Linked DNA regions of Homo sapiens. The protein of the gene in region 1 interacts with the protein of each later gene in a pairwise test. Each region holds a gene or a part of one and is shown on either strand. Other genes may lie near its edges.

Evidence for each region. The genes of interacting proteins can lie anywhere in the genome.
Region 2: the proteins of RASA1 (region 1) and PDGFRB interact in binary tests that used the Homo sapiens proteins (3 or more experiments, as listed by UniProt).
Region 3: the proteins of RASA1 (region 1) and SERPINA4 interact in a two-hybrid assay, tested with the Homo sapiens proteins (one large-scale study listed by BioGRID and IntAct).
Region 4: the proteins of RASA1 (region 1) and CAPNS1 interact in binary tests that used the Homo sapiens proteins (3 or more experiments, as listed by UniProt).

The regions. Positions count from the first base shown.
Region 1 is NC_000005.10:87,270,883-87,274,382, forward strand, and holds part of RASA1 (ras GTPase-activating protein 1), read left to right. Parts: intron 1-3,500. UniProt on the Homo sapiens protein: Inhibitory regulator of the Ras-cyclic AMP pathway. Stimulates the GTPase of normal but not oncogenic Ras p21; this stimulation may be further increased in the presence of NCK1.
Region 2 is NC_000005.10:150,149,346-150,152,845, reverse strand, and holds part of PDGFRB (platelet-derived growth factor receptor beta isoform 1 precursor), read left to right. Parts: exon of another isoform or gene 1-507; intron 508-3,500. UniProt on the Homo sapiens protein: Tyrosine-protein kinase that acts as a cell-surface receptor for homodimeric PDGFB and PDGFD and for heterodimers formed by PDGFA and PDGFB, and plays an essential role in the regulation of embryonic development, cell proliferation, survival, differentiation, chemotaxis and migration.
Region 3 is NC_000014.9:94,560,124-94,564,241, forward strand, and holds the start of SERPINA4 (kallistatin isoform 2 precursor), read left to right. Parts: upstream 1-1,318; 5' UTR 1,319-1,371; exon of another isoform or gene 1,372-1,592; coding exon of another isoform or gene 1,593-1,686; intron 1,687-3,342; coding exon of another isoform or gene 3,343-3,359; coding exon 3,360-4,008; intron 4,009-4,118. UniProt on the Homo sapiens protein: Inhibits human amidolytic and kininogenase activities of tissue kallikrein.
Region 4 is NC_000019.10:36,146,566-36,150,065, forward strand, and holds part of CAPNS1 (calpain small subunit 1), read left to right. Parts: intron 1-3,012; coding exon 3,013-3,071; coding exon of another isoform or gene 3,072-3,247; coding exon 3,248-3,274; 3' UTR 3,275-3,500. UniProt on the Homo sapiens protein: Regulatory subunit of the calcium-regulated non-lysosomal thiol-protease which catalyzes limited proteolysis of substrates involved in cytoskeletal remodeling and signal transduction. Essential for embryonic development.

The DNA.
Region 1 (3,500 bases):
GAGTTTGGTTCATATTTTAATGTCTTTGTAATGCAGAGTCCCTGGGAGTATTCTGGGAGTGTTAATTCCAATTTTGCTGGGCGCGGTGGCTCACGCCTGTAATCCCAGCACTTCGGGAGGCCGAGGCGGGTGGATCACCTGAAGTCCGGAGTTTGAGACCAGCCTGACCGAGATGGAGAAACCCCGTCTCTACTAAAAATACGAAATTAGCCTGGCGTGGTGGCGGGTGCCTGTAATCCCAGCTTCTTAGGAGGCTGAGGCAGGAGAATCGCTTGAACCCGGGAGGCGAAGGTTGCAGTGAGCCGAGATCCTGCCATTGCACTCCAGCCTGGGCAATAAGAGCTTAACCCCGTCTCAAAACAAACAAACAAACAAAAAAACAATATTACAGCACTGCTTTTGAAAAAAATAGTTCAATTTTTATTAAATGCTAATAGCATGCTTGGTACAATGGTTATGAAAAACAATGCAACTTTTCATACTGAAAGAATCTAGTCTTATGCTAGTTTATAACTAAATTAGGTATATTTAGGATATTGTAGTTAAAAAAAACTGTTTTTAGTAGACTTCTTTTTTTTTTTTTTTTTTTTTTTTTTTTTTTTGAGAGATGGAGTTTCGCTGTTTCGCCCAGGCTGGAGTGAAGTGGCGTGTTTTCGGCTCACTGCAAGCTCCGCCCCGCCCCTCCCCGCCTTCAGGTTCAAGCGATTCTCCTGCCTCAGCCTCCTGAGTACCTAGGATTACAGGTGCCCGCAACCAGGCCTGGCTAATTTTCATATTTTTAGTAGAGACAGGGTTTTGCCATGTTGGCCAGGCTGGTCTCGAACTCTGACCTCAGGTGATCCACTTGCCTCCCGAAGTGCTGGGATTACAGGTGTGAGCCACCGCGCCTGGCCCAATAGACTGTTTTTTAGAGTAGTTTTAGGTTCTCAGCAAAATTGAGGGGAAAATACAGGGTGTTCCCATTAAATTTTTAGTAATAAACACGATTGGGCTGGGGGTGGTGCTTCACGCCTCTAATCCCAGCAATTTGGGAGGCCAAGGCGAGTGGATCACTTGAGGTCAGAGTTCGAGACTAGCTTGGCCAACACGGTGAAACCCCGTCTCTACTAAAAAAAAAAAATCAGCCGGTCGTGTTGGCGGGCGCCTGTAATCCCAGCTACTCTGGAGGTTGAGGCAGAATTGCTTGAACCAGGGAGGGGGCGGTTGCAGTGAGCCGAGATCTGCCGTTGCACTCTAGCCTGGGCAGCAAGAACGAAACCCTGTCTAAAAAAAAAAAAAACACCATGATTGAGTACTTATGAAAAATTGTGAGAAATTCATTGTGTGGGATTTTCACCATTACTACATGTATTTGGAAATAAAAATTGTATGACTATGTATATGAAACTTGTTCATGTTCTAAAAAATACCCTCCATTTATAATATGTTTTTAAAATTTGCCACTGAGAAGTACAAATTTCCTTCTTATTTCATCTTAGTTATCAACCCAGAGTCACTGGAGGCAATGCAGTGTAGTGGTTAAGCGTGCAGATTCTGAAGTTAGACAAGATTTGGGTTGGAATCCTGACTCTGCCACTTACTAGCTGGGTATTCTTGGAAAGGTCAGTTTCCCCATCCGTAAAATGGGGATAGGAATGGTACCTTCCTCATATGATTGTTTTTTTTTTTTTAAGATTTAATGAATACCTTGATGTATTCGTCACAGTACTTGGGCATAGTAAGTGTTCGATAAATACGTAGTCCCCTGTGCCCATAACTGTAATATTTTACTAGCACTAAATTGTCTACTAATTCTTTTGGTTAGAGAATCTCCCTTGTTAAATGACTATTTTACAGAATGTTTTGAACTCCAAATCAAGCCTACCACGATTAATTATATTAAGAATTTTATTTTAACTTTATAAGGGCTTCTAGCAGTAGGTTAAGCAATTTTAGAGGTGAAATTCAAGTGTTCTCTATAAATTCCTATTCCTGAATGTAGATATTCATATTTTTAAGTGGAAGGAAAAGCCTTAAAGACATTTTCAAATAATATTTATCTTTTGTAAAAGTATTGAAGAAATGTTGGACTAAATACTGACTATGAGTAACTGGTCCCCTTAGTTATGGATAGCATGGTATTAAGGGGGTTTAGGTCACAGGATTGAGTCCACAAGTGGCTTGTTACTCGAGTGTTCCATGGTCAGGAAGTTAGTTCAACTTTGTTCCCAGTTTTGTGCTATTGATCACAAAAGAGTCAAATGACAATATGTAGATACACCAGTGCAAATAAATTAACACTATTAATTAGTATTTTGTACCTTGTTTTTCTGTGTACGTGGTGAATCATTAGTCTCATTTTTATTACTGAGCATTTTCATTAGTTTGGTTGAGGCTGGAAATGTTTATGTAATTTGTACTATTTATTTGAATATTTTTGAAAGTTTTGAGAAAATTATAAAAATAAAAAAAATTCTTCCTCTCTATTTCTCTACTATAAAAGTTTCTATATCTAAAACTGTTAACAGATTTCTTTTTCGAGAGAGAAAAGGTTAAATTAAAGAAGTTTGTCACTAGTACTCCATAATTTTTTGGAGTTTCTTTTCATGGTTCTCATTTTTTTTCTTCTGCAGGGTGAGGGGCAGTGGTGGTAAAGGTATATTGTTTGTGTAGTGCACCATCAGTTATATGTAGAGATTTTTAACTGTGAGTCTGCAGTAGCAAGTGGCCATTGGTGAGAATCCAACCCACAGATATATACTGCTTGCCCTTAGAGTATTTGGAATATTTGATAATTGTCACCATTTAAGAATAGAGATTTCTTTTCTTTTTCTTTTTCTTTTTTTTTTTTTTTGAGATGGAGTCTTGCTCTGTTACCCAGGGTGGTGTGCAGTAGTGTGATCTTGGCTCACTGCAACCTCCGCCTCCCGGATTCAGGTGATTCTCCTGCCTCTGCCTCCCCAGTAGCCGGGGTTACAGGTACACACCACCATGCCTGGCTAATTTTTGTATTTTTAGTAGAGACGGGGTTTCACTCTGTTGGCCAGGCTGGTCTCGAACTCCTAACCTCAGGTGATCCGCCTGCCTTGGCCTCCCAAAGTGCTGGGATTACAGGCGTGAGCCACCTCGCGGCCAATAGGAAGATTTCATATTTAAGAAGTCTCAACTTCTAGCATCTCTAGAAAACCCACAGGACTTGGCTATACCTGGTGGCCATTCCTGCTTGAGACTAGATTGCCAGAGCTGAGTAGCGGTTGACCCTTTTAGGTGGGTACTGAGGTCTCCATTTGCAGTCTCCACCAGGTCTGCTTTGCCTTTGCTATTGCAGTATTTGCCTGGCATCTGGCCTGGATCTTATGCTGAACCTAATATTCAGACTTCTCAAGTCTGAAACTTTAAGGAAAAGAAAATAAGGAATGTAAATAGTACCTTTCTTTTTTAAAAAAATCATTTTACTGTCTCTACAAAAATAAAATCATTCTTATTAAGTCAAATAATTGGTGAAGGTTAATGTTAGAACA
Region 2 (3,500 bases), about 63 Mb from region 1:
CTTCACAGCTGGACCTCTGGCCACTGGCTGAGAGAACCACTGCTCTCCTGGCCTCCTGCATTGGAACACTTGGCTGTGAAATTAATCTGCAACCTGCAAAAGGCTCTGCCCACAGAAGGGACCTGGACACCATGTATGTTCCAAAGATCCGTGTCCATCCTCCAGGCACAGGCCACAGTCTGACTCTGAGACCAGCTGCCTTCTAGGCTAAAGGAGGGTGCTCTGGGCATTGGCTCAGAACAGGCTGCTGCTGAATGCAGTGGGAAGGGAGAAAGGGATGAAAAGGTCTTCTGAAATGCCCACCCATTTCTTGCATTTGATTCAGAACCCAGTGGGCAGTGGGTTCTTGGAATGGGAATCTTTTTGGTGCCCCCTGTCTTCTGACCCAGAGCGTTAGGAGGGAAGGGAAGGGGTGTTGGGCCCCTTCCCAGGGTCAGGGCTTGTAGCACCTCAGCTGGGAAGCAGTGTGAGCATGATGATATAACAGGAACCAACTCGTTCTTAGCACTTTCTGTGTCTACTTCAATTGTGCTTTACATCTGTTACCTCAAAGTTGCTGCTGTATTCCTCAGCACTTGGAACATGCTGGGCATTCAGGACATTCTTAGTAAATATTTACTGGATTAATTTAACCATCGAGGCTGGGCACGGTGGCTCACACATGTAATCCCAGCACTTTGGGAGGCCGAGGCGGGTGGATCACCCGAGGTCTGGAGTTTGAGACCAGCCTGGCCAACATGGTGAAACCCTGTCTCTACTAAAAATACAAAAATTAGCCAGACGTGGTGGTGCGCACCTGTATCCCAGCTACTCAGGAGGCTGAGGCACTAGAATTGCTTGAATCCAGGAGGCGGAGATTGCAGTGAGCCTAAGCGACAGGGCAAGACTGTCTCAAAAAAAATAAATAAATAAATAAATAAACCGTCACAGCAACCTCAAAATTAGATATATAAACTCTCCCCACTTTTTTTTTTTTTTTTTTTTGAGATGGAGTCTCACTCTGTTGCCCAGGCTGGAGTGCAATGGTATGATCTTGGCTCACCGCAACCTCCGCTTCCCAAGCTCAAGTGATTCTCCTGCCTCAGCCTCCCAAGTAGCTGGGATTACAGGCGTGTGCGCCACCATGCCCAGCTAATTTTTATATTTTTAGTACAGATGGGGTTTCACCGTGTTGGCCAGGCTGGTCTCGAACTACCTGACCTCAAGTGATCCGCCTGCCTCAGACTCCCAAAGTGCTGGGATTACAGGCGTGAGCCACCGCACCCAGCTAAACTCTCCCCATTTTACAGGTGAGAAAGTGCGCAGAGTCAGTTGCCTAAAGTCCCACAGCTCGGAAGTGGCGGAGCTGGGATTTGCACCTGGGTGTTTCTGACTCCAGATCCCCTTGATGAGAGGCTGGATGGGGCCTGGGATGCCCCTGGGGATCCAGTGTAAACCCTGAGAATGTGCCTCAGCTGTGGGGGCCCTCAGCATTCCAGAGGTAGTCATCAGACCCTAGAACCCTATGGGACTGTGCACAGATCGTTCCCTTCTGGGGCCTCAGTTTTCCCATCAGTCAAACGAGGAGGTTGACCCAGATGATGGTAAATCTTTCTTCCAGCCCTAAAACAATTTCAGGATTCCAAGCCATGCCAGCCCAGATTGGCAGCTGCACAAGCCTTGCTGTGTACTCAGGGATCATGCATATTTAATTTCACAATGAAAGGGTTTTTTTCTTACCCTTTTTCTACACATTACAGAAAGAGGTCAGGATCGATGACCACTAATGGAAAACTTTAACCTGCAATAACAATGAGGAACTTTCTGACAATTAGTGTGGCCCCTTAACGTGCTCAGTTTCTTGAGGAGCTCAGAGGGCTCCTACAGTTCCCACATGCCCATTTTCCTGAGATACTGAGCAGGGAGGGTCGGGGAGGAAGGCCCACTAGGGGCTGTGTGTGGATGCTGTAACCCTTTAGGTCTCTTCCAGTGCTGCGTTTTCAAACCTCATATGCTCTAATTTCAAGAGGAAGCAAGGCTTTGGCCCAGATGAGTGATGGGATCCAGAGGTGAGGGGGGGAATGGACACAGGGACCTACCTCTGGTGGGAGTGGGTGTGAAATTCCCATGCTTGTTGCTTCCAGTGTGGAAGCCCACTTCACATCCCTCCTGAGCCCTCAGGCCCAGATCCTCAGGATAAAGTCTTCCTGAACCTCCAAGCCTTAGCCCCAGAGCCCACCCTGCCCCCGCCCCCTACATCCACCAGATGCTTCCTGGGGTAGCCCACCCCCAGCCTGGTGCAGGAGGCTGAAAATCAAAGTGTACTGCTTTAACCGCATTAAAATCCCCTCCTCTCCTCAATTCAGATCAGGGCTATTTGATGTCTCAGGTGCCTGAAACCTTTTATCTGCCAGAGGTACCAGCTTCTCCGCCCTGTGATGGAGAGGGCTGTCCCTTGGGAGGGTCAGGGGGTCTGAAAGTTCCTGAATGTCAGAGATGAAAAGGACTTTTGGGGGTCACCTGATCCAACTGCTTTATTGTATGGATGGGAACTAAGGTCCAGAGAGGGGAAGGGTTGCACCTAAGGTCCGTACAGATCATTGGTGATGACGCTGAGCCTGGGACCTGGGCTCGCCTTTGTTCCACCACAGGTGCTGGGTCTTTACCATCTCTCTGAAGGCCTGGAGAGACCCAGCTCCACCTCTGTGGTTCAGGGCTCAGCCTCCAGGTCTGTCTGGGCTATGGGCTGAAAAGGAGCAAAGCCGTCCCAACAAGAAATGGGAATCTTCCTGGGTGGTTTGCTGGACCCCCGAGCTTTTGGCCATACCACTTCTTCATTCTAATCATAGTTTCCTCTTATAATAAAGTGGGGAGAAGCCAAGGGAGAAGTTTAGTGGCCCCCAGAGGTCCATCCAGCTCTGCCCTTAGCCCCTGAGAGTTCCTACCATGCTTCTTGTGACTGTTTTGCCACATCCTCATTGCTGCTGCTCTGTTACCTTCCCTTCTGAGAAGTGGAAACCCAAGGGCAGTGACACCACCAGCTTCTTCACTTCTGAGGCTGAGCCTCAGTGGTTATAGGGTGGGGCAGGGTTTCCAGTTAGCCTTAGAGGGGTAGGGCTCAGCTTTCTAAACATGTCACAGAAGCCCTGGCCCCTCCTGGCCCAGAGCATTGAAGGTAAAGGTGCAGGTTTGACCTGGTGGACTGTGGGTGGCTCCCATCTCACCTGTATTTGTGTCCTTATCAGTGTCCAACCCAGGGCCTATCTGCTGAATGGATAGTGAAATAATCACTAGATAAATAAATGCATGTAGAGATGCATAAATGGATTGGTGGGTGGGTGGATGGATGGATGGATGGATGGATAAATCGATGGAGACAGACAGATGGCCTCCCCTTTAGTCCAGGGCACAGAGATGGCTTCATGAGTACTCATCCTCCTGAGGGCCCCATGCTTAGAAGGGCCTATGTTTGGTTTAATGCTCTGCAGTCATCATTTTGAAATTGTTAATAATTTTTAACA
Region 3 (4,118 bases), on another chromosome or scaffold:
AGCTGCTATTCCGGTGGCAGGAAAAGTCTGTCCAAGTGGAGAAGCAGCAGATGCTGGGAAGGAATATGGGCTTCATGTTCAGTGGCCACGGAGCAGACCCTGACTCTGGAATCTGAGCTAACAATGTCTCCGGGCTTACATTTTCTCATGTGTAAAATGGGCCAAGCTTAGTATACCTAGAGTGTATAGGCAAGGGAAAGAGAGAGATGAGTGAGGGAAAGCGAGAATCCACTGAGACAGTAGCTCTCACTTTGCCTGACCTGCTAGCTTCCTCTCTTGTCCTGGTGTTGACCCATTTTGGACCTCAGGCCAGCTGGCTCCAGGGCTGTGCTTGTGCCTGCTCTGCCATCCCCATGTCTACATCGCTCAGGGCTCCCAGCCCACTGTGCTGCTCAGTGGTGTATATTTCACTTACCTTAAGGCCCAACGACTTGGAAACACATCCAGAAAGTCTGCTAGAGGATGCCTGAATGGTCAAGGTCATCTCAGTCAGGGCACCCAGGGCCACATTGCTCCCTGCAGTCCTTCCCCACATAGCTTGAGAAATGGCTGCCCCAGGAGGGTGCAAGGGTGCAAGGGTGCAGGGGTTCACTGATTACTGGGGAGAGAACAAGTTCAATTCCATGGTTAAAGAAGAAAAATGCAAATTGAATACCTGGCCCAAGGAGGTTCCTGGTCCCACCCCATGCCACCCTTGCCCTGGGATGTACTCTCCTTATGGTCTGACCTATGAGATCTCAGTGGACTCTATCCTCAGAAATCACAGAGTCCAGGATTGCAAACTGGAGGCCCTGCTGTGAGGCCCTGCCCACAGGTGGGTCTTGCCTGGCCTGTAGAGAGCTGGCTCTCTCACTTCCACACATCCCCACCATTCCCCACCGTGGCACCATGGAGTCTTCCTTACCTGATCTAGGAAGGCGGCGCTGGAGCTTGCTGCCCCCTGTCTGATCCAGCCCCTCATGTTGTAGGAGGGAGGTGGGCGACTGAAGCTCAGAGAGGGAGTAAATGAGCTCAACTTCACACAGCTAGTGAGGGGCTGGTTGGAGACCAGATTTTCCAAGTGGTTCCCCGGGCCCTCGGGGAGCAGCAAGGGCCAGGCGAACCTCCATGCACTGCACAAACATGAAGAAGTGAACCCTCTTGGGGTTCCCCAGGTGGGAAGTGGGGTGTCTTCTTGGGAGGGGGTGAACCAACTTCTGGTGAGTTTTCCTTGTTGAGGCAATGCTGCACCCGTAGCCTGTTTGTTAATAATTACCTGGTCGGGAGAGAGTGGGTGGTACTGAGAAGGCCTGGTTTGACCAGTCCTCCTGGGCTTGATAAGACAGAGCTGAGACAGCCACCCAGGGGGTCCACTCCAGGACAGACTGTGCCGTGAGTAACCCCCTGAGACAATGGAGACGAGAGACTCTAGAGGGAGGGTGACCAACTGTTCCACTTTGCCCAAGACTGATAATTCTTCTGGGATATATTTTCAGTGCTAAAACCAGGAAAGTCCCAGGCAAGCTGGGACACTTTGTCACTCTTGCTAGAGGTGAGAAATACTCAGGCTAGAAAGGCCCCGACTTAGGGTCCATGGGCACTGGTGGGTGACTATGCCCGGAGACCCAGAAAAGCCTCCCCCAGGGACACACAGCTGGTACAGGGCGGCACTGACTGAGGGCCAAGGTCTTCTGGCTGCCAATCCAGGTGATCTTGGGGAGCTCATGCCGGAGGGGAGGTGTGTCTGTGAGTGATGCGGTCCTATGTATGTTTCTAAATGATCCCTCCAACTGCTGAGTGGAGAACAGAGAGCAGAAAGACTAGGAAGCTTTCTGCAAGGGTCTAGGTCAGGGGTCAACAAACCACAGCTTGTAGGTCAAATCCGGCCCACCGCCCATGAGCTAAGAATGCAAGATGTAAAATATAAATATAAAATATAAGTGATAAGTATAAAAGATAAATATATAAAGCTATGAAAAATCAATAGAAGAACAACATTTTGTGACACAGGAAAATAATATGAAATTCACATTTCAGTGTCCGTAAGTGAAGTTTCACTGAAACACAGCCACGCCTCTTCATGCATGTCCGGTCTGTGGCTGTTTCCAGCTGCCACAGCAGAGTTGGGTAGTGGCAGCAGAGACTGTGTGGTCTGCAAAACCACAGATATTACTATCTGGCGCTTTGCAGAAAAAGTTTTCTGAGCCCTGGTTGAGGATCATAGCAAAAGAGGGGGCGAGAGGCTGAAGAACCTACAGGAGAGTCTAGGAGTTGGAGACCAGCTTGGGCAGCATGGTGAGACCCCAACTCTATAAAAAATTAGCTGGGTGTGGCTGTGCATGCCTGTAGTTCCAGCTACTTGGAAGGGTGCATGCCTGTAGTTCCAGCTACTTGGAAGGGTGAAGTGGGAGGATCACCTGAGCTCAGGAAGTCAAGGCTGCAGTGAGCCATGATTACACCACTGCACTCCAGCTTGGGTGACAGAGTGAGACCCTGTCTCAAACAAACAAACAAACAACCAAACAAACAAAAAAAACCCAACCCTGCAGGTCATGGAAGTGGATTAAATGGATTTTGGGTGGATAGAAGCCTAGAAGCTTTTTGGCCTGACAACCGGATACTGGTGGGACCATTTGATGGGGCAGGAGCAGATTTGGGGGAGAAACTGGAGTATCCTTTCTTGGACAGATGTTCATTATGAAACGGGTACCAATTCTATCCCCACAACTTTGGGCAGGTCACTTATTAAACATCCATGTCCTTGTCTGTACGGGGTAACAATACAAAGACCAGTTCTACTGACCTCTACAGGGGTGGGAGGGTCAAACTAAATGGCTGAAAGTGGTTTGTAAACCATATAAAGCACTCCACAGATGTTTGTGGAACAGACCCTAAAATAAACTCTGAGGATAGCCATCCTCCATGCAAAATCACTGCACTAATGAAATCAACTCATCTGAAAGACAAGTGTGGGAGAAGCAGCACCTGAGTCTGGGGATGTGGGTTCTGGCTGGGATATGTGCTAGGTAGGTGACTTGGGTGAGTCACTTTGGGAGTCTTCATTTCCTGCTCTGTTGGGTGAGAATGGAGTCTAGTGCTGTGCAGAGCTCACACAGGTGGGAAACACAATGACATGATGGACACAAGGAGTGTGCCTTGTAAGTCTAAAACATTGCCATCCAATAGTGTTGCTGTCACCATACATGTGGAAGGTGGTGGGTGTTACATTGCCTTTCACAAGCCCATCTGCAGGAGTTGAGGGTGTCACTCACGATCTCCGGGTGCTGGCCCACTGCCAGCCTTCTCAGTAGGGCCAGGTGTTCTTCTGGGGGAATTTCCTGGGCATTCTCTTCCCTCCCATAGGCCTGAGAGTGCAGAGGATGCATCTTATCGACTACCTGCTCCTCCTGCTGGTTGGACTACTGGCCCTTTCTCATGGCCAGCTGCACGTTGAGCATGATGGTGAGAGTTGCAGTAACAGCTCCCACCAGCAGATTCTGGAGACAGGTGAGGGCTCCCCCAGCCTCAAGATAGCCCCTGCCAATGCTGACTTTGCCTTCCGCTTCTACTACCTGATCGCTTCGGAGACCCCGGGGAAGAACATCTTTTTCTCCCCGCTGAGCATCTCGGCGGCCTACGCCATGCTTTCCCTGGGGGCCTGCTCACACAGCCGCAGCCAGATCCTTGAGGGCCTGGGCTTCAACCTCACCGAGCTGTCTGAGTCCGATGTCCATAGGGGCTTCCAGCACCTCCTGCACACTCTCAACCTCCCCGGCCATGGGCTGGAAACACGCGTGGGCAGTGCTCTGTTCCTGAGCCACAACCTGAAGTTCCTTGCAAAATTCCTGAATGACACCATGGCCGTCTATGAGGCTAAACTCTTCCACACCAACTTCTACGACACTGTGGGCACAATCCAGCTTATCAACGACCACGTCAAGAAGGAAACTCGAGGGAAGATTGTGGATTTGGTCAGTGAGCTCAAGAAGGACGTCTTGATGGTGCTGGTGAATTACATTTACTTCAAAGGTGAGAGTCAGATCATTGGTATATGCTAAATCCACACCACCGCCTCCAACCCACTAATTTGTTGACTGGTTAAATATATTTTTACAAAAATGTAAGTAAAAACGTTGTGT
Region 4 (3,500 bases), on another chromosome or scaffold:
ACAGGCCGAGGGTCTAGGGCTCTGGTGAGGGGAAGAGTGAGCAGAGCGTGCTCAGATTGTGCTTGGGGAAGCCTAGAGGGCAAATCCAATCCAGGAGGAACCTGATGCAGCCCAAGGGGTCAGGGAGGGCTCACTGGAGAGGGAACATTGAGACCTGAGGGGATGAGGAGAGAACTTAGTGAGAAGGTAGGGAATACTGTTGCAGGCTGAGGGAACAGCCTGTGCAAAGGCCTAGAAGGGAAAGAAGATGGGGCTTCTGATGCTTTTTGTTAGATTTCTTTCTTTCTATTTTTTTGAGACAGAGTCTGCTGCTCTTGTTGCCCAGGCTGGAGTGCAGTGGCATGATCATGGCTGACTGCAGCCTCAACTCCTAGGCTCCAGCAGTCCTCCTGCCTCAGCTTACCGAATACCTGGGAGTACAGGCACACACCGCCATGCCTGGCTAATTTTTAAAATTTTTTGTAGAGACAGGGTCTTGCTATGTTGCCCAGGCTGGTCTTGAACTCCTGGGCTCCAGCAATCCTCCTACCTCAGCCTCCCAAAGCTTTGGTGTTACAGGCATGAGCCATTGCATGTGGCCTTCTGAGTGTTAGTGTACTGAATGCTGAAGACATGGCTGGGAAGTGGGGATTACTGTCCTTATTTTGTGAAGGAGGAACTTAGGATTCAAGGAGGCAAATTTTCATGCTCATAGTCACCCAGCTAGGAAGTTGTAAAGCCAGAATTTGAACTTGGATCTATCTGAGATCTGAGCTAAGTAAGAGAAGGTAGGAGCAGTGAGCATGATTAGGTCATGCAGGATTGTGGGTGCCAAGTTTGGGGGTGCTCAAACTCTACCAGAGACATTGGGGAGCCATGGCAGGTTCTAGGCAGAGGGAGGACAGGGTCAGGTTTGGCTTTAGAAAGATCCCTTGGCCTCGGCTGGGCACGGTGGCTCACGCCTGTAATCCCAGCACTTTGGGAGGCCGAGGAGGGCGGATCACGAGGTCAGGAGTTCGAGACCATCCTGGCTAACACAGTGAAACCCCATCTCTACTAAAAATACAAAAAATTAGCCAGGTGTGGTGGCGGGCGCCTGTAGTCCCAGCTACTTGGGAGGCTGAGGCGGGAGAATGGCATGAACCCAGGAGGCGGAGCTTGCAGTGAGCTGAGATCTGCCACTGCACTCCAGCCTGGGTGACAGATCGAGACTCCGTCTTAAAAAAAAAAAATCCCTTGGCCTCCAGGCCGGGTGCAGTGGCTTATGCCTGTAATCCCAGCACTCTGGGAGGCTGAGGTGGGCGTAAAACCTGAGGTCAGGAGTTCAAGACCAGCCTGGCCAACATGGCGAAACCCCGCATCTACTAACGATACAAAAGTTAGCCAGGCGTGGGGGCGTGTCTGTAGTCCCAGCTACTCAGGAGGTTTAGGGAGGGAGAATTGCTTGAACCCAGGAAGCGGAGGTTGCAGTGAGCAGAGGTCATGCCATTGCACTCCAGCCTCCAACCTGGGTGACAAGAGCGAGATTCCATCTCAAAAAAAAAAAAAGAAAAAAAGATCCCTTGGCCTCCAGAGAGCCCACAATGCATGAAAAGTAACAGAGGAAAAGAAGCAGGTATGTGAGATAGCAGGGAGGTGAAGGGAGTGGACAGACAAGGTTGATGCCACAAGTCACATAAGAGGGGCCAGGAAATAGCCACTGGATCTACCAGCAAGAAGGCTGATAGTCGGGAGGATCATTTGAGTCCAGGAGTTTGAGACCAGCCTGGGCAATGTAGTAGGACTCCATCTCTACAAAAAAAAAAAAATATATGTATATAGACATAGCCGGGCATGGTGGCACATGCCTGTGGTCTCAGTTGCTCGGGAGGCTGAGGTAGGAGAATCACTTGAGCCCGGGAGGGTGAGGCTGCAGTGAGCTATGATCTTGCCACTGGACTCCAGCCTGGGCCACAGAGACACCGTCTAAAAAAAAAAAAAAAAGGGCTGGGCATGGTGGCTCACTCCTGTAATCCCAGCACTTTGGGAGGCCGAGGTGGGCGGATCACCTGATGTCAGGAGTTTGAGACCAGCCTGGCCAACATAGTGAAACCCCGTCTCTACTAAAAATACAAAAAAATTAGCCAGGCGTGGTGGTGCACGCCTGTAGTCCCAGCTACTCAGGAGGCTGAGGCAGGAGAATCACTTGAACCTGGGAGGCAAAGGTTGCAGTGAGCCAAGATCGTGCCACTGCACTCCAGCCTGGGCAACAGAGTGGGACTCTGTCTCAAAAAAAAAAAGAAAGAAAGGCAGCCAGGGTGTGCAGGACGCTGTGGGTATGGACACCTGAGGGTGGTGGTAACTGAGCGGAGATAGTGTAGTCATCATGTCTAGATTCCCTGTGGGTGGGGAACATGGAGTCAAGTTTCAGGGCAGGCGTGGGGACCTACCTGTAAGACTCTAGGGGCAGGAAGTAGAGTGTGCAGAGCCTCCCTCTAGTAGCCTGTTAGGCTTAGAACTGGAGAGGATGGAGCATAGATGTCAGTAGGAGGCTGGGGCTGGGCAGAGGTGATATCAGTACACAGAGGCCATTATTGAGGAGGGTAACAGATTGGATTCCAATCCTGATTTCTTCACTTTCTTGCTATGTGACCTGGGGCATGGCCCCTCCCTTCCTGCCTCATTTCTTTTTTTCCTGTTTTTAATTTTTAGTTTTTTTAAAAAGCAGAGATGAGGTCTCTGTTGCCCAGGTTGGTCTCGAACTCCTGGGCGGCTCAAGTGATCCTCCCATCTTGGCCTTCCAAAGTGTTGGGATTATAGGTGTGAGCCACCACGCCCAGCCTGTGCCTCATTTTAAAATGACACTTATCTCACAGAGTTGGATTAAATCAGCCAATACCTGGAAAGCACTTTACCCCATGCTTGGCACACAGTAAATACTCAGTGAAGTGCCAGCTGCTATGATTGTCATCCCATGTATTTGTGTAATGTTATTATGCCAAAAACCAGTCTCCTTCCTTCCCTGCCGCCAAACCTCTGCATCTCCTCCTCCAGGTGCCTTCAAATCTCTTGACAAAGATGGCACTGGACAAATCCAGGTGAACATCCAGGAGGTAAGGACCCCCATATTGGGGTATGGGTGCCTGGGAGGACCCCACCCCTCAGCCCTTCATACCAGCTCTGAGCTGCAGTCCCCTTCCTCCTATTTTGCCAGCCGTCCCTGGGTGAGGGCAAAGGGGCTGGTGCTCTTGGGGTTCCCTGTCCTCACTCTCCACCCTCCTCTCCCCAGTGGCTGCAGCTGACTATGTATTCCTGAACTGGAGCCCCAGACCCGCCCCCTCACTGCCTTGCTATAGGAGTCACCTGGAGCCTCGGTCTCTCCCAGGGCCGATCCTGTCTGCAGTCACATCTTTGTGGGGCCTGCTGACCCACAAGCTTTTGTTCTCTCAGTACTTGTTACCCAGCTTCTCAACATCCAGGGCCCAATTTGCCCTGCCTGGAGTTCCCCCTGGCTCTAGGACACTCTAACAAGCTCTGTCCAC